Linked DNA regions of Homo sapiens. The protein of the gene in region 3 purifies or fractionates together with the protein of the main gene of each other region. This does not show direct contact. Each region holds a gene or a part of one and is shown on either strand. Other genes may lie near its edges.

What was found.
Region 1: the proteins of PJA2 (region 3) and CPT1A purify together in Homo sapiens (affinity purification with mass spectrometry, with the first as the bait; one large-scale study listed by BioGRID). This does not show direct contact.
Region 2: the proteins of PJA2 (region 3) and LEF1 purify together in Homo sapiens (affinity purification with western blotting, with the first as the bait; one study listed by BioGRID). This does not show direct contact.
Region 4: the proteins of PJA2 (region 3) and SDHB purify together in Homo sapiens (affinity purification with mass spectrometry, with the first as the bait; one large-scale study listed by BioGRID). This does not show direct contact.
Region 5: the proteins of PJA2 (region 3) and ACAA2 purify together in Homo sapiens (affinity purification with mass spectrometry, with the first as the bait; one large-scale study listed by BioGRID). This does not show direct contact.
Region 6: the proteins of PJA2 (region 3) and ACAT2 purify together in Homo sapiens (affinity purification with mass spectrometry, with the first as the bait; one large-scale study listed by BioGRID). This does not show direct contact.
Region 7: the proteins of PJA2 (region 3) and RHEB purify together in Homo sapiens (affinity purification with mass spectrometry, with the first as the bait; one large-scale study listed by BioGRID). This does not show direct contact.

What each region holds. Positions count from the first base shown.
Region 1 is NC_000011.10:68,754,917-68,758,416, forward strand, and holds part of CPT1A (carnitine O-palmitoyltransferase 1, liver isoform), read right to left. Parts: intron 2,815-3,500; coding exon 2,728-2,814; 3' UTR 1-2,727. UniProt on the Homo sapiens protein: Catalyzes the transfer of the acyl group of long-chain fatty acid-CoA conjugates onto carnitine, an essential step for the mitochondrial uptake of long-chain fatty acids and their subsequent beta-oxidation in the mitochondrion.
Region 2 is NC_000004.12:108,074,933-108,078,432, forward strand, and holds part of LEF1 (lymphoid enhancer-binding factor 1), read right to left. Parts: intron 3,451-3,500; coding exon 3,288-3,450; intron 1-3,287. UniProt on the Homo sapiens protein: Transcription factor that binds DNA in a sequence-specific manner. Participates in the Wnt signaling pathway. Activates transcription of target genes in the presence of CTNNB1 and EP300.
Region 3 is NC_000005.10:109,382,475-109,385,974, reverse strand, and holds part of PJA2 (E3 ubiquitin-protein ligase Praja-2), read left to right. Parts: intron 1-2,454; 5' UTR 2,455-2,541; coding exon 2,542-2,572; intron 2,573-3,500.
Region 4 is NC_000001.11:17,020,628-17,023,032, forward strand, and holds part of SDHB (succinate dehydrogenase [ubiquinone] iron-sulfur subunit, mitochondrial isoform 1 precursor), read right to left. Parts: intron 2,104-2,405; coding exon 1,981-2,103; intron 1-1,980. UniProt on the Homo sapiens protein: Iron-sulfur protein (IP) subunit of the succinate dehydrogenase complex (mitochondrial respiratory chain complex II), responsible for transferring electrons from succinate to ubiquinone (coenzyme Q).
Region 5 is NC_000018.10:49,789,534-49,793,033, forward strand, and holds part of ACAA2 (3-ketoacyl-CoA thiolase, mitochondrial), read right to left. Parts: intron 2,795-3,500; coding exon 2,619-2,794; intron 2,067-2,618; coding exon 1,937-2,066; intron 1-1,936. UniProt on the Homo sapiens protein: In the production of energy from fats, this is one of the enzymes that catalyzes the last step of the mitochondrial beta-oxidation pathway, an aerobic process breaking down fatty acids into acetyl-CoA.
Region 6 is NC_000006.12:159,772,045-159,775,544, forward strand, and holds part of ACAT2 (acetyl-CoA acetyltransferase, cytosolic), read left to right. Parts: intron 1-3,125; coding exon 3,126-3,269; intron 3,270-3,500. UniProt on the Homo sapiens protein: Involved in the biosynthetic pathway of cholesterol.
Region 7 is NC_000007.14:151,467,896-151,471,395, reverse strand, and holds part of RHEB (GTP-binding protein Rheb), read left to right. Parts: coding exon 1-2; intron 3-743; coding exon 744-825; intron 826-3,500. UniProt on the Homo sapiens protein: Small GTPase that acts as an allosteric activator of the canonical mTORC1 complex, an evolutionarily conserved central nutrient sensor that stimulates anabolic reactions and macromolecule biosynthesis to promote cellular biomass generation and growth.

The DNA.
Region 1 (3,500 bases), on a different chromosome or scaffold from region 3:
TAACCTACATTCACACTGCATTTCTAAGATTTACATCCAAAGAGCATACTGTATTTACATGCACCGGTCAGCCCAAGATAACAAATTCAAACCATGGCTGCGTTAAGACAATGGTTTGTTCCAATTAAATTAAACAGATAATACTCTTATCACCCCCCTTGGACATGTACAATAAGACCCCTCTTTCTCCCCTCAAGGAATATAAAATTGCATTGATAACTGCACTGATGAGCAACAATTACATTTGAAACATTTAAAACCTGAGAGAGAAACCCAAATATGTTTAAGCACTCACGTCTACACTCAAAATGCCCTGTGAACTCTAGTGTAACACAGATTGCTCAGTGGTCAACAGTGCATGATCTAGCTGGCTCTGATAGGGACTGACGCCGGCTGCTGGCTTTTAACGGGAAGTGCTATTCTTGCCCAGGGCAGAGAGAGCTACATCCCCGCTGCCTGCTTGACGGACAGTCAGGGGCTTTTGTTGTTGGTTTGTTTTTGCTTTTTTTTTTAGACGGAGTCTCGCTCTGTCGCCCAGGCTGGAGTGCAGTGGAGCGATCTCGGCTCACTGCAAGCTCCGCCTCCCGGGTTCACGCCATTCTCCTGCCTCAGCCTCCTGAGTAGCTGGGACTACAGGCGCCCGCCACCACGCCCGGCTCATTTTTTGAATTTTTAGTAGAGACGGGGTTTCACCGTGTTAGCCAGGATGGTCTCCATCTCCTGACCTCGTGATCCGCCCGCCTTGGCCTCCCAAAGTGCTGGGATTACACGCATGAGCCACCGCGCCTGGACGCTTTTTTTTTTTTTTTTGTCTTTTGTTTTCATTTTTTCTTGCTTTCAGGAGAAAAAAAATCTTTGGCCCATAAAGGTGGGATTTTTACATCATGAAGTATACATACATAAAACATGCATGTGGGCCGCGCATGGTGGCTCATGCCTGTAATCCCAGCACTTTGGGAGGCTGAGGCAGGTGGATCACCTGAGGTCAGGAGTTCGAGACCAGCCTGACCAATATGATGAAACCCCGTCTCTACTAAAAATACAAAAATTAGCAGGGCATGGTGTTGGGCGTGTAATCCCAGCTACTTGGGAGGCTGAGACAGGAGAATCGCTTGAACCTGCAAGGCAGATGCTGCAGTGAGCCGAGATTGCACCACTGCACTCCAGCCTGGGCAACAAGAGTGAAACTCCATCTCAAAAAAAAAAAAAAAAAAAAAGGCACGTGTTCTCCGGCAAGCACCTTCCATCGACTCCAACAGTTCAGCCATCGCTGTTGTACTATCGGGGTGCAGCACTCTGAAGGAGTCAGGCCCAACTAGAACCAAGTGGTCAAAAAAATAAATACACAATTTAAAACAATGGACAGCTAAGCTTGTCATGACAGACAGTGGGAATTTCATTCCATGATGCTTCATTTTTGCATTAAATACTGAAGATGACTCAGTGCATAATTGCTTTGTGGTCCATGAGACGCTTTCGTGAAGGCACTCCTATCTGAAGGACAGGCTGGGTGAACACCTAGCACTGTCACTTGAGACATCTTGGCTGGTCACCAAGGTGAGCCGGCATACTGTCTCCATCACCCTCTGGTGAGTCTTTCCCCTCACCGGGTGGGAGGAGAAGGCCATCCCTTGGGGTCGTGGAGCCACTCTCTCCTCACCACGGTGGGCTGCCCTCCCCTTCCTCACTTGCTAGTCCCCGCTTGGTGGCCGATGCCCTGCCCTCCTTGCTGTCACTTTGGGAAAGAGATCCTCCTGAGGCACGTGTCATGTTTTATTCTTGAGTGAATTATCTGACCATCACGGCCCTTGCTCCCCTTTTATGACATGTGCCTGTTATTTCTTTTGTTGCTTATGATGACAAGAAGGCAGTCCCGGGAGGGGAGTCTGGCACAGCTGCCCTTGGGAAGGAACTGGTGTTTCTGAGGGGGAGGGGGCTGGTGGGGTGTAGCAAATGCTTATGTACGGTTATCCATACTCAGTCAATTGTGAAGGGAACAGTATACCCACAATTCCACCCAAAGACTCTACAAAATAAATCTTTCTCTCCATCTCCCTTACATTTAGGGCCTTTCATTTTTAAGGCACTGGGTTGTGAAGACTTGAAGACATACAAGGTCAGTAAAACTGAAGACCTTGCATCCTGCTTGCTTCAAATGTGGAGAGGCAAACACAGGCTACTGGACCAGACGGGAACGGTTACCCACGGTGACAAAAGCAGGTCTCCAAAGCACAGCATTTTGGTTAGTGCATTCCAGATGTGTTAGCTACAACTGGGGACACCAACTTGAATAACACATTTTTCTTTTAACAAAACAAAAGTTTACCCTGCTTGGATGATGCTAAATGCCCTTAAGCACTAGGCCTTCGGTTGCCACTGAGAAAGCACACCATTTCCATTCCACTGTGTGTGAAGCCACAACCCTACTAATTCCTTCATTAACTCAACAAGATTTGCATCCCTTAATAAATCCAAGCCGATGCGGAGACATCAGGGGAGACTTTATCAGATGTCCCCCAAGGGAGGGCAAGTCTGGAAGTAGTGGGGTTATGCTTCACAGGGGAGAGATACTGTTCTAGGAAAAAAAAACACCCACATTTTCTGGAAGGAAAACTGAGTTTTTTTAAGAGCAGTGTTTCATCCCGAGCTAAGGTCAGGATTAATGCCTATTTTTCATTTGGTTTGCATCAGAAGAGCTCGTTTTCCTTCCCAGCAGCTCCAGTGGAATTACTTTTTGGAATTAGAACTGAGACCAAACAAAGTGATGATGTCAGTCATTGCTTCTTTCAGGTGCCTTCCAAAGCGATGAGAATCCTTTCATGTAAAAACAAAAACCAAAAACCTATTAAAACGTGGCCATCCCCACATTTCAAGCTTTTTCATTTGCAATCTGACCCAATGTTTCATTGAAATTCCTTTCTGCCAGTTCTCTAAGATCTGACCAACGTCTTAAAGCTTAACTTAGACATTCCAGAGAAATGCTGAGGGTAAAGAGATGACAGCTGATGTGTTTGTGCGGGTGTGTTGTCGATCTAAGCCTTCCCCTAATGCCAATGCGTTTATCCCACGGAAAACACAATGACCATCCTGAGCATGGTGGCTCATGCCTGTAATCCCAGCACTTTGGAATCGCTTGAGCCCAGGAGTTCAAGACCAGCCTGGGAAACATGGTGAAACCACATTTCTACAAAAAATACAAAAATCAGCCAGGTGTGGTGGCACTCCCCTATAGTCCCAGCTACTCAGGAGGCTGAAGTAGGAGGATCCCCTGAGCCCAGGAGGCTGAAGCTGCAGTGAGCCGAGATCACACCACTGCACTCTAGCCTGGGTGGCAGAGTGAGACCCTGTCTAAAACAAACAAACAAACAAACAACAAAAGAAAACCGCAGTGAACAAATAAACCCCAACTTCCTCTGTTAACAGCGACAGTGGCATGGGTTGCCAGGCTATGTACGACAAGGAAAGCAGAATATAAATAAGGGCAATGTGCCATGCTAGGG
Region 2 (3,500 bases), on a different chromosome or scaffold from region 3:
CTCAAAAAAGAAAAAAGAAAAAACTAAGAGTTGCATACAAGCTGAAATAAAAACATCAGCCCTTCTTTTCCTCTGATTTCTTCTTTTAAAGAGTCAGGGAAAATGATCATCAGTTTTTAAGGCGGAGTTCTTCCAAGATGATGGGAATCACTCATCTGCCATGATCTGGCTTGGGAAAGCATTGTAATTATTGTTATTAAGTGTCTAAGAATCCACAGGGAGATAGGGCATTGTACACAGGACACCAAAAAAGCTATAATCTATCACCACATCCTCCCCTGGAAACCCTGGTGACTTGCAGATTGGAAATAGCTGCATTTTGAGGCTATCCAATGGGAATCGATAATGTAAGAGGGCCTGCTTCCCTCCTGTTCACATGGACTGGAAATCTCCTAAATGTTTTCTGTTATAAATGCTCAAATTTATTAGGTTCAGAACAGACCTGGTAAAATTATCATCGACAATAGCTAACACATGATCCTCTATGTTTCACAAGGGTTGTTAGATCCTCCTCAACTGAATGTTCATTTGCCAATCATGAATTTCTTGAGAGGTTGCAAAAACAAACACAGGGTCACAAATTAAGAGGCTACCACACAGATATGAAGAGCATCAACAAATTAAGATGAAACATTTCTAAAATTATAATGATAACGTGACTATGGTGAAAATGTAATTTAAATTAGAGAAACTCAAACTTTTCTTACCACTCTTCAGCCATCTAACTGAAATCACTTCAATCCCATACAAAGTACTTGGAAGGACTGACTATGTATGTCTTTTGGCTGACAGTTGGATAAACAATCTTAGAGTGTCTATCCTAGTTGTAGCCTGCTGCCTGGTACATAACAGGGGCTCAGAAAAATATCATAGCATTGGTGAAAGAATGAATGAAAAGAAAAGGGCAACCCAGAAACCTGGCAGGTGTACACTTGGAGATTTGGAGAACAGTCTTTCTAGAATCAAGACTCCTCAGGATCATATACATTCTTCCATGTAAAGCCTCATGGTAGAACAGCTCTGCTTCTGTCCTGGAAGGAGTGGCCACCTCTGTTTGCCAGGACGGTCCCCCAAAGGCCTTGCTGTAGCTCCCTAAAGAGCTAAACGCTTTCCTGTTTCAGAGGCGGCACACACATGCTACTCCATCTGCATGTGGGGGAGTCTACCTCTCCCCATTCGTCTCTACTTACTCTCACATCTCAGCTTAAATACAGTTTCCTCAGAGGGGCCTGCCCAAGCCCCTACTGTTCTTTCTCACTGAATCTTATTCCCTACATTCACAGTATTTATCATAATTTTTATTACATATTTATTGGCTATTTATTTGTCTAATGTCTGTATTCTGTCATAAAACTTGAAGCTCCAGAAAGGGGCTGTACCTATTTTGGCTAATAGAGGCCCTAACAATGATTTATAGATCTGTAAATTCTAGGTGGATATTTATTTAATTTTTTGAGACAGAGTCTCTTTCTGTTGCCCAGGCTAGAGAGCAGTGGCACAATCTCGGCTCACTGCAACCTCCGCCTCCCAGGTTCAAGTGATTCTCCTGCCTCCTGCCTCAGCCTCCCGAGTAGCTGAGATTATAGGCATCCACCACCACACACTCAGCTAATTTTTGTATTTTTGGTAGAGATGGGGTGTCACCATGTCAGCCAGGCTGGTCTTGAACTCCTGACCTCAGGTGATCTGCCTGCCTCGGCCTCTCAAAGTGCTGAGATTACAGGCATGAGCCACCGTGCCCAGTGGCTGCATCTACTTTATTCAGCAATTATTACCTAATCTCCAGGCATCATGCCTGACCCAAAAGGATAATAAATATCTGTTTAAAGAATGATAATGGGGCTTTAGGAGGTCGAGGTGGGTGGATGACTTGAGGTCTGGAGTTCAAGATCAACCTGGCCAACACAGTGAAACCCTGTCTCTACTGAAAAAAAAAATACAAAAATTAGCCAGGTGTGGTGGTAGGCAACTATAATTCCAGCTCCTCAGGAAGCGGAGGCAGGAGAATCACTTGAAGCTGGGAGGCAGAGTTTGCAGTGAGCCAGGATCATGCCACTGTACTCCAACCTGGGTGACAGAGCAAGACTCATCTCAAAAAAAAAAAAAAAAAAAGAATGATAACAGGGCCAGAAACGGTGGCTCCCACTTATTCACCCAGCACTTTGGGAGGCCAAGGTGGGAGGTTTGCTTGAGCCCAGGAGTTTGAGACCAGCCTGGGCAGCATAGCAATACCACATCTCTACAAAATTTTTTTTTTTTAATTAGCCAGGCATTGGCCACTGTCCCGTCTAGCAAGTGAGGAGCCCCTCTGCCTGGCTGCCCCATCTGGGAAGTGAGGAGTGCCTCTGCCTGGCCGCCCAACTGACTGGGAAGTGAGGAACCCTTCTGCCCGGCCACCCAACTGACTGGTAAGAGAGAAGCGCCTCTGCCCGGCTGCCGCCCTGTCTGGGAGGTGAGGGGCACCTCTGCCCGGCTGCCGCCCCGTCTGGGAAGTGAGGGGCACCTCTGCCCGGCTGCCGCCCAGTCTGGGAAGTGAGGGGCGCCTCTGCCCGGCTGCCGCCCCGTCTGGGAAGTGAGGGGCGCCTCTGCCCGGCTGCCGCCCCGTCTGGGAAGTGAGGGGCGCCTCTGCCCGGCTGCCGCCCCGTCTGGGAAGTGAGGGGCGCCTCTGCCCGGCTGCCGCCCCGTCTGGGAAGTGAGGGGCGCCTCTGCCCGGCTGCCGCCCCGTCTGGGAAGTGAGGGGCGCTTCTGCGCAGCTGCCGCCCCATCTGGGAAGTGAGGGGCGCCTCTGCCCGGCTGCTGCCCCATCTGGGAAGTGAGGGGCGCCTCTGCCCGGCCTCTGTGCAACCCTCCAAGTGTGAAGTGACAGCCTTGTGTGTGATCTTCCTGCCCTCCCCAAGTTTGCATTTTCAACATTAAAGTTTACTTTTTAATTAAAAGTTTTAAATTGGAAAAAAAAAATTAGCCAGGCATGGTGGCACAACGACTACAGTCCCAGCTATTCGGGAGGTTGAGGTGGGAGGATCGCCTGAACCCAGGAGGTCAAGGCTGCAGTGAACTATGATCATACCACTGTACTCCAGTCCAGCTTGGGCAACAGAGTGAGACGCTGTCTCAAAAAAAAAGAATAACAGTAAAAACAGTTATCAAAATTCTTTAAAATGCATCATATCATATCTTGAAGTGCAAACACATTCTATGACCACCTGATATGGGATTAAATTGGGGCAGATTTTCATGAAGCAGTTCCATGGCTACCATGAACATTTACACATGACTCGGCTACTTACCCTTCTGCCAAGAATCTGGTTGATAGCTGCACTTTCTTTTAGAGTACACTCAGCAACGACATTCGCTCTCATTTCTTTCATGTATAACATAAAAGCATTCAGAGGCTTCTTAATGTGAGGTCTTTTTGGCTCCTGCTCCTTTCTCTGTTCATGCTGAGGCTTCCTAAAAGGTGGTGGTGGTGGTGGTTAGGGGAAGGGGTTGAAGGAATGAGG
Region 3 (3,500 bases):
CAGTACTTAACAGAAGCTTTATTTCATGCACACAATTATTAAAAGTATTGTATAAAATTACTTTCAGACTGTGTGTGTAAGATGTGTAGGAAACAAGTGAATTTTCTGTTTAGACTTGGATGTCATCCCCACGATATCTCATTATGTATATGCAAATATTCAAAGATTTGAAAAAATCCCAAATCCGCACTTCTGGTTCCAAGCATTTTGGAAAAGGGATACTCAATCTCTGCTTCTTTTTCCCTGGCCTCTTCATATTTGATTTTCTCAGGGCTTAACTTCACTTCTCCATGTACACCTAGAGATCTCATCCAAGTTCATACCTGTTTTGGTATAATCTATACACTGACAACTCCCAAATTATACTAACAGCTCATAATTCTTCAGTCAACACCAGACTCCTATTTAATATTTCCATTTGAATGTCTAATAGATATCTCAAACTTAACTCATCCAAAACTGAACTGAATATATTTTCTTCAAATCTGGCTCTTCCACAATTTTTCCTACATTAATTGAAATTTACTCCATTTTTCCCATTGCCCAGCCTGTAAAACCTGGAGTCAACCTCGACCTTCTTTCATATCCTATATTAGTAAATTTTGTTGATTGTATTTTTACAATATGTCCAGAATCTGGTCATTTCTTACCATCTTTATTTTAACCCTGGTCCAAACCACTATGATCTCTTACCAGTATTATTTTGATAGCTTTTTAACAGTGCTCCCTGCTTTAGACCTCATTCCTCTTCATGCTATTCAATACAGTAGCCAGAGCATTCTTCTTAAAACAGAAGTCAAATATCTCTTCTGTGGTCAGAACTTTGATGGTTTTCCATCTCAGAATAAAACGCACATTTCAGCCAGGCACTGTGGCTCATGCCTGTAATCCCAGCACTTTGGGTGGCCAAGGCAGGTGGATCACGTGGTCAGGAGTTTGAGACCAGCCTGACCAATATGGTGAAACCCTGTCTCTACTAAAAATACAAAAATTAGCCGGGCATGGTGGCACACGCCTACAGTCCCAGCTACTGGGAGGCTGAGGCAGGAGAATCACTTGAACCCGTGAGGTGGAAGTTGCAGTGAGCCGAGATCAAGCCCCTGCACTCCAGCCTGGGCGACAGAGCAAGACTCGCCCTCAAAAAAAAAAAAGTTAAAACACTGTTAATTAGCACCTATGTTTTTGCCAGTATGTTAAGATTATTATTATTTTTATATTCCTTTTCTCTTTAGCTGTTGCTAACAGCCTCTTTTGATTCAGATACTTTAAAGGATCATAACTTGTTACTGAATTTATAAATTATATGGGTGAATGTGGGTTTGTACTCTTACGTATGTTAATATATATCTGTCTGTGATTAGACAGGTAACATATAAATTAAACTCATTTGCAGAGCTATTGCATTAATGATGAGCAATTAGCAGTAGCTCAAGTGTTTAAATAAATAAGGTGTTTAAATAAAAACTTAACCAAACTTTCAAAAAAACCACAGGTTGCAACTTCTCAAATAGTACTTTTCAAATAGTAAATAAATGCATTAATTTCAAAACAGAAGTTCTTTTTGTATTTGTTCCATGATAAATTGTAGTTTTTCCTGATTGAAAATAGGTTCTTATTTGGGATTAAATTATCTGATCAACTGACTATTGCAAAGAATAAATACATCATTATTTACACACATTAATTATTGTTATAAGCCATTACACATTTTTAAAAAATGAAGTTTGTATTCTTACAGTTACCTTTTAGCAATTCCAGGGCTAAAGGAACTTTACTGCTTGACAGAGAAGCAATGATAGCACAGTGTAGTAGACTCCCAAATAGTTTGGTTACATACCTGAGTCAGTACTTCTGATATTTTTGTTTGTTTACTTACAAATTATGTATGTGTTGTTGTCATTGACAGTCTTAAGGATGATATATACTTAGGCAAGGTTTATCAAGAGCAGATGTAAATCTGTATTTCACATAGCCATTTTGGTATTTCTGAGAGTTTTTGATTGGCTTGTCAAATTGTGTTGTATTTTTCTTGTTTTTATTTATTTTTGGGACGGGATCTCACTTTGTCACCCAGGCCTGGAGTGCAGTGGCATGATCTCGGCTCACTGCAGCCTCCACCTCCTGGGCTCAAGCAATCCTCCCACCACAGCCTCCTGAGGGACTAGAGGTGTGCACCACCACGCCTGGCTAATTTTTGTATTTCTTGCAGAGACAGACTTTCACCATGTTGGCCAGGTTGTTCTCGAATTCCTGAGCTCAAACTGATTTGCTCGCCTTGGCCTGCCAAAGTGCTGTAATCTAAGGCGGATCACAGGCATTTGCCACCATGCTGGCTACATCACATTGTATTTTTCTAAGTTTTATTATAAGACTTCACTAGGAGGAGCAGAAGTATCAGTTTTGCTATTTTTGTGCTTTTATTAATATATTGTTCAATTCATTGTTTCTTTGTAGGAATCTTCTGCGGCTTGTCCATAGTGTGAATAAAAACTAAATCACATCTATAATTCTACTGAACTGGTCACACAGACGCTGCCATATATGTCACAGTACACTGAAAAGGAGCCAGCAGGTAAGGAAAGTCAGTTCTTCTACATTGAGTACTTCTTGTTTTTTCCTCTGGGTACCTTGAGTACCAGTAAGTGACATATGATCATCTGACCTGTGGTCTTACTAAAAGGCTGGTTTTGATCCATATATTGAATATTTGTAAAGCTTAGTTTCTAATTTTTGATAGGTAAAAATAGAAATTCTGGTATTTTCTTTCCATACCCATTTAGCTTGGAAAGCTTTATGCTTTCCACTTCGGAGACTATTCTTTTGGTAGAATTGTTAAGGGCATTGGTTCTGGAGTCATACTTTTGGATTATTAGACAAGTTATCCAACACTTAATTTTAACTTTAATTTTTCAATTTTTAAAATAGAATACAATATCCACCTCAAGATTACTGATGGGATTAAATAAGTGTAACACTTGATATTATTTATACTCGATATGTGCGTGTATTATAAATACATGTTTGTTTCTGTTTCCTTCTTGGAAGTGATTATATTTCTTATTTTAATACAACTAAGAAATTATGTAACTGTTTCATTCATTCATTTATTCATTTTTTTTTTTTTTTTGAGATGGAGTTTCGAACTGTCACCCAAGCTGGAGTGCAGTGGCACAGTCTTGGCTCACTGCAACCTCCGCCTCCTGGGTTCAAGTGATTCTCATGCCTCAGCTTCCTGAGTAGCTGGAATTATGGGCATGTGCCACCACGTCTGGCTAATTTTTGTATTTTTAGTAGAGACGGGGTTTCGCCATGTTGGCTAGGCTGATCTCGAACTCCTGGCCTCAAGTGATCCGACTGCCTCATCCTCCCAAAGTACCGGGATTACAGGCATGAGCCACCATGCCCAGCAACTGTTGCATTTATTGACTATACCATATGCTGTGAGAAAATATTTTGTTTAGTTGCTGTGTAGTACATGTAATGTATAATTGACTAAGCAG
Region 4 (2,405 bases), on a different chromosome or scaffold from region 3:
TATCTCTGTCTCAAACAAGCCCAGTACTCATGTTTTTTTAAAAAATAACATAAGGTGACATTTATTGGGTGCTTACTATGTGCCAGGCACTGTTCCAAGCACTTTTATAGCATAACTTGCCTCAGAGGTCAGTAGCTATTCACAGGCACAATCATGGTAAACCACAGTCCTGGGGACAGGACCCAGATGGAAGCCCAGGCAATAGGGAGCTGAAGCCTGTGGGCTCCCCCAGCGAGGCCACTGGAAACACAGAGGGTTTCCAGGCAAAAAATAAGTGAATTCTACAGCTTGGATTTCATGTTTTCAAACACACAGTGTGATCTTTTTTTACGGCTAACTGGCCACCCTACAGTTTTCCACCTTGCCGCCCACTGACTCACTGCAACTTTTGAGTGAAATCACCCACAGTCTTTGCTCGGAGGGCAGCCGTGTTCTGAACCACACAGCCCTAGCCCTTCCCTGCCCACTGGGCAAGGCTGACTGGACCAGGGCTGACACCTGCTATGGTTTGAATGTGTCCCCAAAAGCTCATGTGTTGAAAACCTAATCCCCAATGCAACAGTATTGAGAGGTGGGACCTTTAAGAAGTGATTAGATTATGAAGGCTCTGCCCTCACAAATGGATTGCCATTATCATAGGAGTAAGTTCCTGATAAAAGGATGAGTTTGGATTAGTCAGGTGTGGTGGTGTGTGCCTGTAGTCCCAGCTACTCAGGAGGTAGGAGGATCACTTAAGGCCAGCAGTTCCAGGCTGCAGTGAGCTATGATTGCGCCACTGCACCCCAGCCTGGGCAACACAGTGAGACCCTGTCTTTTAAAAAAAACAGATGAGAGGGGCCGGTCGCGGTGGCTCACGCCTGTAATCCCAGCACTTTGGGAGGCCAAGGTGGGTGGATCACCTGAGGTCGGGAGTTCGAGACCAGCCTGACCAACATAGAGAAACCCTATCTCTACTAAAAATACAAAATTAGCCAGGCATGAGTGGTGCCTGCCTGTAATCCCAGCTACTCGGGAGGCGAATGCAGGAGAATCACTTGAACCTGGGAGGCGGAGGTTGTGGTGAGCTGAGATCGATCGTGCCATTGCACTCCAGCCTGGGCAACAAGAGCGAAACTCTGTCTCCAAAAAAAAAAAAGGCTGAGCTTGGGCTCCCTTTCTCTTGCCCTTCTGCCTTTTGCCATGGGGTAATACAGCACGAAGGTTCTTGTTAGATGCTGGCGCCAGCCTCTAGAGCTGTGCGTCAAATAAACTTCTTTATAAAATTACCCAGTCTGAAATTCTGTGATAGTACCACAAAACAGACTGAGACAGAACCTGGCCAAAGGGCAGCCGGTCTGTAGCCAGCTGTGGCCTCTGATGTGCAGGCATGAGAAGGTGAGCTGGGCCAATGCGACACCCTCTCAGGAAACTGTGCTGAGAAGTGCTGGGAGGCAGGCGGGTGGCTGAAGCTGGAAGTGTGCTGGGAGGCAAAATCCAGGCCAGAGTGAGCCAAAAGCAGCAGCAAATGCGAGCAGGAAGAGGAACGAAAGCCAGAGCTTTGAGTCAGAGAAAACCTCCACAGAGCCGAAGGAAAGAACAGGCTGCTAGAGAGCAGAGCAGATTAGCAGCTGACATCGCGAGAAAGATGGAGAAGAAATGAAGTCCTCACAGCTGCCCACGTTCCAACGGCTTTCGCTTTCTGTTTCCTGGGAAGGTTGAACGCAGGTACCTGCTCATGGGTTCCTGTGCATCCTTAACTCCCACAATGTCCCTGTGTAGCCTACAAATAAAGCCTGCTCCTGAGGTGGCCCGAGTCAGTCTACTCCTTGCAACTAAGAGCCAAACTAGCCCCTAGGCTCACACTGAAAGGACAGGCATATGCTGGTCCCTTTCCTTCTCAAATGACTAGGGTTGCTCTCTGCCAATCACCTCTTTGTGAGCACATGCTACTTCTGGCGTGTCAGCTCTGAGGCAGAGCTGAGGGTCACCAGCCCCACGTACCTTAGGACAGGTCCTTGTGCAGTTCATGATGGTGTGGCAGCGGTATAGAGAGAATGGGTCCTGCAGCTTGGCCAGGCGCTCCTCTGTGAAGTCATCTCTGGAGTCAATCATCCAGCGATAGGCCTGGAAAACCAGGGATGATTAGCTGAGCTGCCAATCAACAGGCCAGAGCGGCACCCTGGCTCAACTCAAAGCTCTGGGAGTGCAGAGGAAAGGGAATTCACTCAGCTTAGATGCCTCATCTCCATACTCTTTAATTCTTGTCCATCTTTCAAGGAAAGGTTCCCAACACTTGTAGCTTCACTTGATTAATGGTCCCTGCAAACCTTTGATCCATACTGCACCTGGTACCCGGGTGCTTAATTATACACACTGGGTATCATCTCCTAATTATTTCACATTGCTCAATAGCTTCCTACCCAGCT
Region 5 (3,500 bases), on a different chromosome or scaffold from region 3:
AAGGAAAACAACGCTTTCTTGGTTCACTGGCTATGCTAATCTACCAGAACCTATTAAATAAAGTTAAACTGAAAAAGGAGTATAAAATAGCCAACCCATGTCACATACATTTGTTTGATCATCAAAAGCATCTAGGTGTATGCAGGAAAAAAACCAACTCTGCTCTTGGGCTGGGCATGGTGGCTCACGCCTGTAATCCTAGCACTTTGGGAGGCTGAGGTGGGCGGATCACCTGAGGTCAGTAGTTTGAGATCAGCCTGGCCAACGTGGAAAAACCCTGTCTCTGCTAAAAATACAAAAATTAGCCAGGCGTGGGGGCGGGCACCTGTAATCCCAGCTACTGGGAAGAATGAGGTTGCAGTGAGCTGAGATCACGCCACTGCACTCCAGCCTGGGTGACAAAGCGAGACTCTGTGTCAAAAACAAAAAACAAAACCAACTCTGCTCTTGGGCTCCACTCTGGACTTACTGAAACAAAATCTAAGGGTGTGGGGGTTATGAGTGGATTCTGACAATCATCTGAGGTTGGGAACCACTACCCTAGATATCAAAATAATAAATGCCATAACAACATACGGATGTTTAATTTTTCCACCACCTTCCATTTCTAAGACAAAAGTTATCTTTTGCCAATAGTGGATAGCCAAAAGCTAATAAGCTTAAGATTGACTTTTCATATGTGTCAAAATATCTTGCAGTTCTTGCTGACATAAATTTGAGACACATAGTGAAAGATGACAAAATATGAACATGCCAGCTTTTTTTCTTAGGAACTCTATACAGAGATATGTCTTCTCTGAGGGACATGGCAGCAAATATGGTTGAGTATTAATCCCAAGTCAGTGTAAGTGGTATTGTTTGAGTAGAACCTGTAGGCTTACACTGAAGGATCTCTGAGATGGCAGGTCAGTAACAGGTTATCCTCCTCCTCCTCTCTTGGAACCCACCTCAGAAAACAATTTAGTTATTCAAAAAAGGGCTAAACAATCTGAAATCTATACCCTAGGGCAGGCTTTTCCTTACAGTGGGAGGTTATATGTAGGTGGGATATATCAAAGTTACTGAGCACCAAATTTTATTTTTCTAAGTAAGGCACCTAATTGGTTCCCTGTTCCCCCAGAGAATGACAGGAACTATTAAAATTCAGCATCGTGTGTGGTTCCTAGGAGTGCATCCAGCAAAAAGCTCTTTGTTCTACTTCTAAATCAAATATTTTAAGCCAAGACTATACATGTTTATGGACTTCCAAATTTTTTCCATCTAGCATTTTACCAATCTAATTATAAGTCTTTATTTTGCTAATACTCACCTGAGCAAGAGGAATATTAATTTGACTTCCTGAGACTATGCGTTTAACTCACAGTGAAGAGAGCACTTGATTTCAGAGAGACTTGGATTCACACCCTGGCTGTCACTTACTGATTTGGAACCTTGTAAGACAACCTCCCTAAGCCTCAATTTTCTCATTCACAAAGAAGTCTCCCTTACTGGAGACGTGGGAAGACTGAATGTGTGTAAAACAACCAGCAAGGAGCTGCGATACCACCTTCTCCATACAGCCTTCTCTGTTTCACCCCAGGATTTCTCCCATCTCATAATTTCTTTTATCTTGTCAGGATCACGTAATTCTTCTGTTATTTTCTGTGTTGATTTCTAAACTCTCAAAGGAACAATAAGATATAATTACTGTGTGTTGATTTTTTAAATCTCAAATGGACACTAAGATATGATTACTTCCTCCATGGAGTTTACACGGTCTTGGTTTTTCTATTGTGTCTAGGACAGTTCTTCATAAAGATTTTTTATTTAAACTGATTACCAATCTTCTTTTCTCTACAGGTGACCTTGGTTTGGCCACTTTTTCAGGACTCTGAATGCCAAAGAAGACTTACCTCCAGAAATATTATAGAACCAGTTTGTTTTACTATAAACTTACCAATACCCATGATAGAGGGATCACATCCAGATACAAAGTAGCCCACAATTCTTGCCAGTGGTGTGAAGTTATGTTTCTTAACAGCATCTTCACTAGCTATGATAACAGCTCCAGCACCATCAGCTACACCCTTGAAAATAAAAATACTAGATTAACTAAAGGCTAAAATAATCCAGTTAATCAAAGTTTGAACTAATGGACTAGTAGTATTAGGAATATGGCAGTACATAGGAAGCCAGTGCACAGTGTGAGATACAATTAGAAAAGTGGTACTGTGGTGGATGAAGGAGATTTTTTAAGGCACAGAATACAACTTTACTAAAGAACAAGGAAAAGGGTGTCAAGGAAAAACTTTTATCTAGATGTGAGTAGATGTAAGAAGAAATACGATAAACTGTATGCATGAGAAAAAAAAAAGTTTGAAAACCAAAATAAGCCAGATAGATTTGTTTCTGAAATTTCTTAGTTCTGAAAAAATTAAGAAATCAGAAGAGTATTATATAAATAAATATGAAAAGATTTTGTGTGGGTCTATGAAAACCTAAATTAATTGAATATGAACACTATTAGTTTAAGCTAAACAACTAAAGACTGGCATAAAAAGTATTTACAAGATACTTCATGATTACTTTTGTTGAACACACCAGGAAGAATTCAAGCTAATCTGTGTGGTGATACCAACCGATGCATTCCCTGCAGTAACAGTTCCATCTTTCTTGAATACTGGAGGAAGTTTCTGTAACTGTTCCAGGGTGGTTTGGGGCCGAGCATGCTCGTCTACCTGCATTGTCTGTTTTCCTTTCTTTGTCTTCACTTCAATTGGTGCCATTTCATCATTAAAGTAGCCAGCATCATTAGCTGAAAAATAGTAGAGAGACTATCATAAGAATAAAAGAGAGAAACATGAAAATAAATCAAACATATTATTCAATTTAATTTCTGATCTACCTTTTCCTCACAGTCTACTTTAATATTGAGTCTTTATTAATTTTTGAGATGGAGTCTCACATTGTCGCCTGGGCTGGAGTGCAACGGCACAGTCTCGGCTCACTGCAACCTCTGCCTCCCGGGTTCAAGTGATTCTCCTGCCTCAGCCTCCCCAGTAGCTGGGATTATAGGTGCCCACCACCATGCCCGGCTAATTTTTTTTATATTTTTAGTAGAGATGGGGTTTCTCCATGTTGGCCATGCTAGCCTCGAACTCACCACCTCGTGATCCACCCTCCTTGACCTCCCAAAGTGCTGGGATTACAGATATGAGCCACCACGCTCAGCCTGAGTCTTTACTATTTACTTACACAACTTACCTTCCGTATTGGAGGATTTACGATACCATCATGTGTTTATGTAGTTGCATTTTGCATCTTTTAAAAATTATAGAGTCTTTACTATTTACTTACACAACTTACCTTCCGTATTGGAGGATTTACGATACTGTCATGTGTTTATGTAGATGCATTTTGCATCTTTTAAAAATTATATTTTTAAAAATTATATTTTTTTAACCACAATTTTTTTTCACCAGGTACTGCTAAGACTGTTAGCAGCATCTGTCTGTTTGCTA
Region 6 (3,500 bases), on a different chromosome or scaffold from region 3:
GAAACCCCATCTCTACTAAAACTACAAAAAATTAGCCAGGTGTTGCAGCAGGTGCCTGTAGTCCCAGCTACTCTGGAGGCCAAGGGAGGAGACTTGCTTGAACCTAAGAGGCGGAGGTTGCAGTAAGCTGAGATATTGCACCATTGCACTCCAGCCTGGGCAACAAGAATGAAACTCCATCTCTAAATAAATAAATAAATAGTGTAAATAAATACTGTATAAAATGCAAAGCACTCAGAATAGCCAAAACAATTTTGAAGTCAGAAAATAGCACTTACATGCTCTGATTTTAACATTACCTATAAAGCTGTTGTAAACAAGACAATGTGGTTTTGGCATAAGGACAGAGAAAGAGAACAGAGTTCAGAAATAGACCCAGACTTATGCTTGTTTTCAACAAAGGCATCAATGGAATGAAATGGAGAAATTAAAGTCTTTTCAACAAATGGTGCTGGAATAACAGATTACTCACATGGGAAAGATGAACCTAGATCCCTACCTCACACCCTATATAAAAGCTAATTTGAGATAAATCGTGGATTTAAAAATAAAAGCAAAAAATGTAAAGCTTCTAGAAGTATATATAAGAGAATAGCTTTTACAGGGTGCAGTGGCAGGTGCCTATAGTCCCAGCTACTAGGGAGGCTGTGGTGGGAGGATCACTTGAGGCCAGCAGTTTGAGGTTGTATAGTATACTATGGTTGATTTTGCCTGTTAGTAGCTGCTGCACTCCAGCCTGGTCAACATAGTGAGACATCATCCAACAAAAAAAAAAAAAAAGAAAGAAAAACAGCTTGATAAGTAAAGACAAGACATAGAAAGCAAAGCAATAACTTTTTTGTGTGTGTGTGTGGAGACGGGTCTCACTCTGGCACCCAGATTGGAGTGCAGTGGCTCAATCTTGGCTCACTGCAACCCCCACCTCAGCCTCCTGAGTAGCTGGGACCACAGGTACTCACCACCATGCCTGGCTAATTTTTTGTATTTTTTGTAGAAATGGGGTTTCACCATGTTGCCCAGGCTGGCCTCAAACTCCTGAGCTCAAGGGATCCTCCCACCTCAGCCTCCCAAAGTGCTGGGATTACAGGTGTGACCCACCAAACCTGGCCAATTCTCACATTTGTAGAAGAGAGTTACAAATACGGAAAGGGAGAAGAATGTAGCTTGTGGTGTTAGGTTGCATTTTGGAGAACTCAAAATGCAGTATGAACTCAAGGTGTTACCATGAGTGTGTGTGTATATGTAAAATTATAAATAATACATATGGAAGTTTCTACTGAACAGACCTAGAAACAATGACAAACCAGTAACAACAAGCAGTCCTGACACCCAGATCTTCTAAATACATTTATCCACTAAAAGGAACTAAGGTTGTTTGGAGAAATGGCCCTTTCCAAGGCTAGGGAAAAAATGCTAAAAAATTAAGGACATGCTCAGGGACATGTTGAAAGCACACAGGAGGCAGCCTACGGGGCTTCCACTTTCCTGTAGTGGAATTTTGAACAATTTGAGCATCAGAGTCAGTAATGATAGTAATGGGTTGTAACTGCCCAAATTTTGAACAATTTCAGCGTGCAAATAAGTTATGATAGTAATGGGTTGTAACTGCCTAAATTTTGAACAATTTCAGCGTGCAAATAAGTAATGATAGTAATGGGTTATAACTGCCCAAGTATTGAAAAATTTCAGCATCAAAGTAAGTAATGAGAGTAATGAGTTATAACTTATTCAATAAAATGAAAATGTATGAGTCCATCCTGATATAAATAACTGAATAAATGGGAGAAAAGGAAAAGGTTTTCTTTGTGGTAAAATGCCAATTAATATCTTACCAATAGAAGGAATGTTGGAGTTAGAAAGTCATGAATGAATGCTAAAACTAGTGGGTGAAAATATGATGGGGAAGAAGATATTTGGATAATCCAAAAAGAACCTCTGATAAATTATTGATTACTTATAAATGAAAAAATGGTACCTTTAAAAGCTAGAAACCTGGTGAATACCAAACCATTTTAACCAAGTGATCAAAGATAACATCACCTGGGATAAACTGATTGTCATTTGTGTCCTAATAAGACTCACTGAGAAAAATCATACTATCATTCAGTGGTATACCTGCCTTTTGGCAGAATCTTAATCTAATTCTGAGGAAACATCAGACAAATCAAAATTGATGACCCTTAACAAAAGAACTCGCCCATGTTCTTCAAAAATATCAAGCTTAAGAAGCATAGTCTGAAGAACTGTTACAGACAAAAGCAAACTAGAGAGATTGATAGTTGTACAATGCATGCTTCTTTATTGGCTCAAATAAAGGAGCTAGAAGGACATTACTGAAATATAGGTGAAATTTGAATGTGGACCAAGGATTAGATAATAGTGTTTGATTCATGTTAAATTTCCTGATTTTTGTTTTGTTTTGTGAGACAGGGTCACCCAGGCTGGAGTGCAGAGGCACAATCATGGCTCACTGCAGCCTTGAACTCCTAGGCTCAAGTGATCCTTCTGCCTCAGCCTCCCAAGCAGCTAGGACTACTAGCTACATGGCACACACACCATGCCCGGCTAAATTTATTTTTAATGGAGACAGGGTCTCGCTGTGCCCAGGCTGGTCTCAAACTCCTGGGCTCAAGTGATCCTCCCACCTCGGCCTCCCAAAATGCTGGGATTACAGGTGTGAGCCGCCACACTTGGCCCAATTTCTTGAGTTTTATAACTGTGCTTATGTAAGAAAGTGGCCTTGTTTTGGGGAAGTATACACTGAAATTAAAATTTAAGAGTAAGAAGGCATTGTATCTCCAACTTTCTCTCAGATGGTTCAGAAAGAAAATATTAAAGCAAATGGAGGGAAAATATAAATGGTGACTCTGGGTGAAGGAAATTTCTGTAAGTTTACAATTATATAGAAAGGGAAGGAGAGAAGTATGACTCCTGAGAGTCACTGCAACATTTCCAAACCAACTGCCAGTGGCAGGCAGGGCCACCCCACACAGAGCATTGCACAGGCCACCATGAGCCTGCTAGCATATGTGGTCAGTCAGTGCTTGGTCAAATGTGGACGACTTGAGCTATCAAATGCCAGTTCATGAAAATGTTAGTTTTTTGCTGTTTTTCTCCTTTCCCAGCTGAAAATGTAGCCAAAAAATGGCAAGTGAGTAGAGAAGATCAGGACAAGGTTGCAGTTCTGTCCCAGAACAGGACAGAGAATGCACAGAAAGCTGGCCATTTTGACAAAGAGATTGTACCAGTTTTGGTGTCAACTAGAAAAGGTGAGTATATCATAGTGGTTTAAACATCAACCTATTTATAGGTAAGAGTAACATCTAAAAGAGTAATACATAGGAATCTTTAGAAATTATATCTTAGTTATGTTTTTCAGGTTGCAAATATATGTCCTGGATACATGAATGTGGGGAGGGGGTATGCTGGGTTTACAGGACACGGTAACATGGGACCTATGTCAGCACTCAAGCACTCTTGGTTCCAGAGCGTCCATGACC
Region 7 (3,500 bases), on a different chromosome or scaffold from region 3:
AGGTATGTAGCTTTTATAAAGTCAAATCTAAGATGATTTAGTCACTGAAGTATCATTTTAATTATTGTTCTGATGTCAAGAATATTTTTAGCTGTAGCATTTTTATCCGTTCAGAGGTGTTATGGTCGTGTGCAGCAGAAGCAAAAGTGGAATAGAAATCTCACATTCCTCTAGAAAAGAGAGAGCAAACTTTATAGGAAACTACCTTTAGGTTATCTGCCACTTTGCATAAAGCAAATTCTAAAAAGACATAGTGCTCATTTATGCAGCAAGTGGTTTTTGAGTACCAGGGTTTGGGATTACAGTGAGGAGCAAAGGAGGCAGATGTCCCCTGCCCAGGCAGCTTCATGTCAGAGAGGAAGAGACTCTACAGCCTGCATGCAAGAGAATTGAGCTTTCAGGCTCTTTCACAATTTCCCCTGGCCTTGGGTGCTTACAACCTAGCTGTAAAATAGTCAATTGTTACAGATACGGGAGTACTGGAAAATAAGATCATGTTCTCTGAGCTGGAAGGTTTGCTGGAGCATGGATAATCCCATAAAGCAATGTCTATTCTGTTCCCCAGCTCAGGCGTAATTAAAACACTCCTGTGTTACATTCTTGATGCTAATGTTAGGCCAGGGCATGGTTCTGCTTCATGAGAAAGAAATTGACCAAAATGGAGCCTGTTTCATAAATCAATTATACATGTTTTATATAATGAAGAGCAAAGTACTTTAACTAGAATTTTATTTTTTCTTTAGGGTGATCAGTTATGAAGAAGGGAAAGCTTTGGCAGAATCTTGGAATGCAGCTTTTTTGGAATCTTCTGCTAAAGAAAATCAGGTAACAGATTCTATAAACCTCATTTTGCATTGCGTTCTCATCAGTCGCAGGGATGTGTTCCTTGCAGTTGGCATTTGACCTCTGTCTTGATCACTCCTGTGTAACATCTGGCCTTCCTCCATTTCTAATACCAAGTTTTGTGTTGCTTTAGGAAGATACTACTTAGGTGTTTATAAATTCAGTCAGTATTCTACTTACAGTGGAACCTAGGATATTTGTAGGATAAACAGAAACTATTAGTAAAGGAAATACTACCTTTTGTAAACATATATTTTTGGTTTGTATTAATAGCTGGTACAGAAATAAGTCCATACAGGGGAAAAAAAAAGAATTATATCACTTTAGTACTAATTTTGTAACTACCCACCCCCTGGCTTTTTTTCTGTTAGATGAAACCGGGTCAGACGTACGTGTTAATTGTTAACATAGAAATGATGAAGAACCATCTTATAAGCATTTAGTACCAATTTCACCCCGCAGATGTGCCTTCAAAGGCATGTTCTGGGAAGGATGTAGATTCTGCCTCCGGAGGCTTCACAGTCCTGTATGAGCCCTTCTCTTCCATTGCTCTAATTTAGACCCCCGGCACCAAGCTTGTCTCCCGCCCCCAGTGCATTTTTCACCTATACATTTTTTTTGCTGCCCTTAATTTTCTAAAGATACACATCTGATGGTATCATCCTCTACTCAGAAACTGTCAGTGAACTGCCCCTTCTCTATAGAACCCTTCGCCTGGTCCTGAATGCAGTCAATAATTTGTTCTTTTCTAGTTTCTTCTCTCACCACGTTCTTGTACTTTCCATCACATCAAACTGCTCCCTTCCTTAAACACACCATCTCCTGTCCACCCCACTTTCAAAATGTCTCACCTTTCCTCATGCTCCCCTCCGGTTTAAAATAGCCCTTCTCTAAGTATCTACTTAGGTTCATGTGGGGTTTTATATTTTGAATGTGTTTTCAACATGTGGTGGTGTTTGATCCTCAGGTAAGATGACTTGGTTTTCATTTCTCTGAGGAAACTCTAGTATAGTAGGGTGGTGCCTCCTCCCTGGGAGGGCCGGGCGCCAGCAGCCTTGGCACTCTTCCTTCCCTGCCCCGCCCCTCTCCGCAGCACGGAGGTTTGTAGTCCTCAAGGCCCCACCTAGATTTCACCTTCTTGTTGACCCCCTCTGGATCCATCCAGCTGAAAGAAATTGTGGTTTCTTCTCTTAGCCCTCTTAATTTGTTCTGAGATCTGAGTCAGTATCATTTATATAAATATCCTTCATAATGTTTAGCACAGTGGGTTATCCGTCAGCCCAAGTATCCTGTGATAGTCAAATTGGCTTTGTCCTGTGTTGGGATATGGAGGGATAGTGAATCCATGTGGTTATGTCCTCTTATGTGCGGATGAAAAAAACTGATTAAACAGATGTGTGTAATTCGTTCCCAAGTTCCAGATAGCAAGGGATTTATCGAAGTCAGCTCAGTTTCTGAGTATACACAGAATTCAAATAAGAATTGAGATAGTTAAGAGATACCTATATTTTAAAAATTGAATTAAATCCATTGAGTGCCTATGGACTGTATCCTTCAGATCATGTAGTTAAACCGCCTCATTTTAGAAGTGAGGAAATTAAGTTTCAGAGAAGTTAAATGACTTTTCTAAGATCACCCACTACCTTACGTGGTATAAGAACTAGGACTGAATTGTAGATCTCATCCACATCTAGTCCTTTTTTCTCTACACACTGCTTCCTGTCAATCAGGTGATCTGAAGCCGGTGACCTAGATTAGACAAGCGGGGTGGGACCTGGGGTTGGCTTCAGTTAACTAGGAGGACAGACGCCTCATTCATACCAACAGGACAGAAGGCTGAGGATGGGAGCCCACATTCAAGTGGGTGGGTCAGCTTGGTGGATGGAGGATGTGGAGTTCTTTCATGAATGTGGCTTCTGTTTTCCAGTGAAGTGTGTAAAACAAGGTTTTCAGCTGAGCGTAAGCACGGGGAACATTTGAGGAGAAGGGACAAGGCGTGGATGCTTTCTCTGGGGAGTGCCCAGATCCAGGGATGCAGGCGGGTGGCTAGGCAGCACCAAGTGTCTGCGCCAGGTTCCTGGTCATGGGTGTGAGGTCAGCAGTGAGCGGTGTGTGTTTTCCCTGGGCAGCGTTTACGGTGTGGCCGCGGGCACCGTGCCAGCGACAGTTGGTAGGGAAGGGAGTTGAAGTACAGTGGCGCCATGGTGGCCTGCTGAGTCTGAGCTGACCGAGAGGGAAAGGAGCAGCAAGAAGTGGTTAAGGGACAGGGGAGATGTAATAATAGGGTCAACAAATCAGGCCCCTTGTGGGGCTGAGAATTGTTGCTTCAGGATAGCTAGAGAAAGAGCTGGGAAGGTGGTGTGGTGGGACGCTGGCAGTTGGTGTGTTCTGGTTTCGTGGGATAGTGGAAGTCACTGGAGTGATGGGGGAGGGGGATTCTTGGTGATTAGGAGAACAGGGTACTTCCTGTGGGGCTTCTGAGAACAGGGGCAGTTTTTCATGACCACAGGACTGCATTTCAAGGACAGGGTCTGGGAGTCACGGTGGCTCAGGCCTGTTGTCCTGGTGCATAAGGAGGCGAGGCTAGGCTTTCGAGGCCAGCCTGGGCAACATAGAAACCTCCAATCTGTATAACAAAAAAGGAAAAATAAAGGACA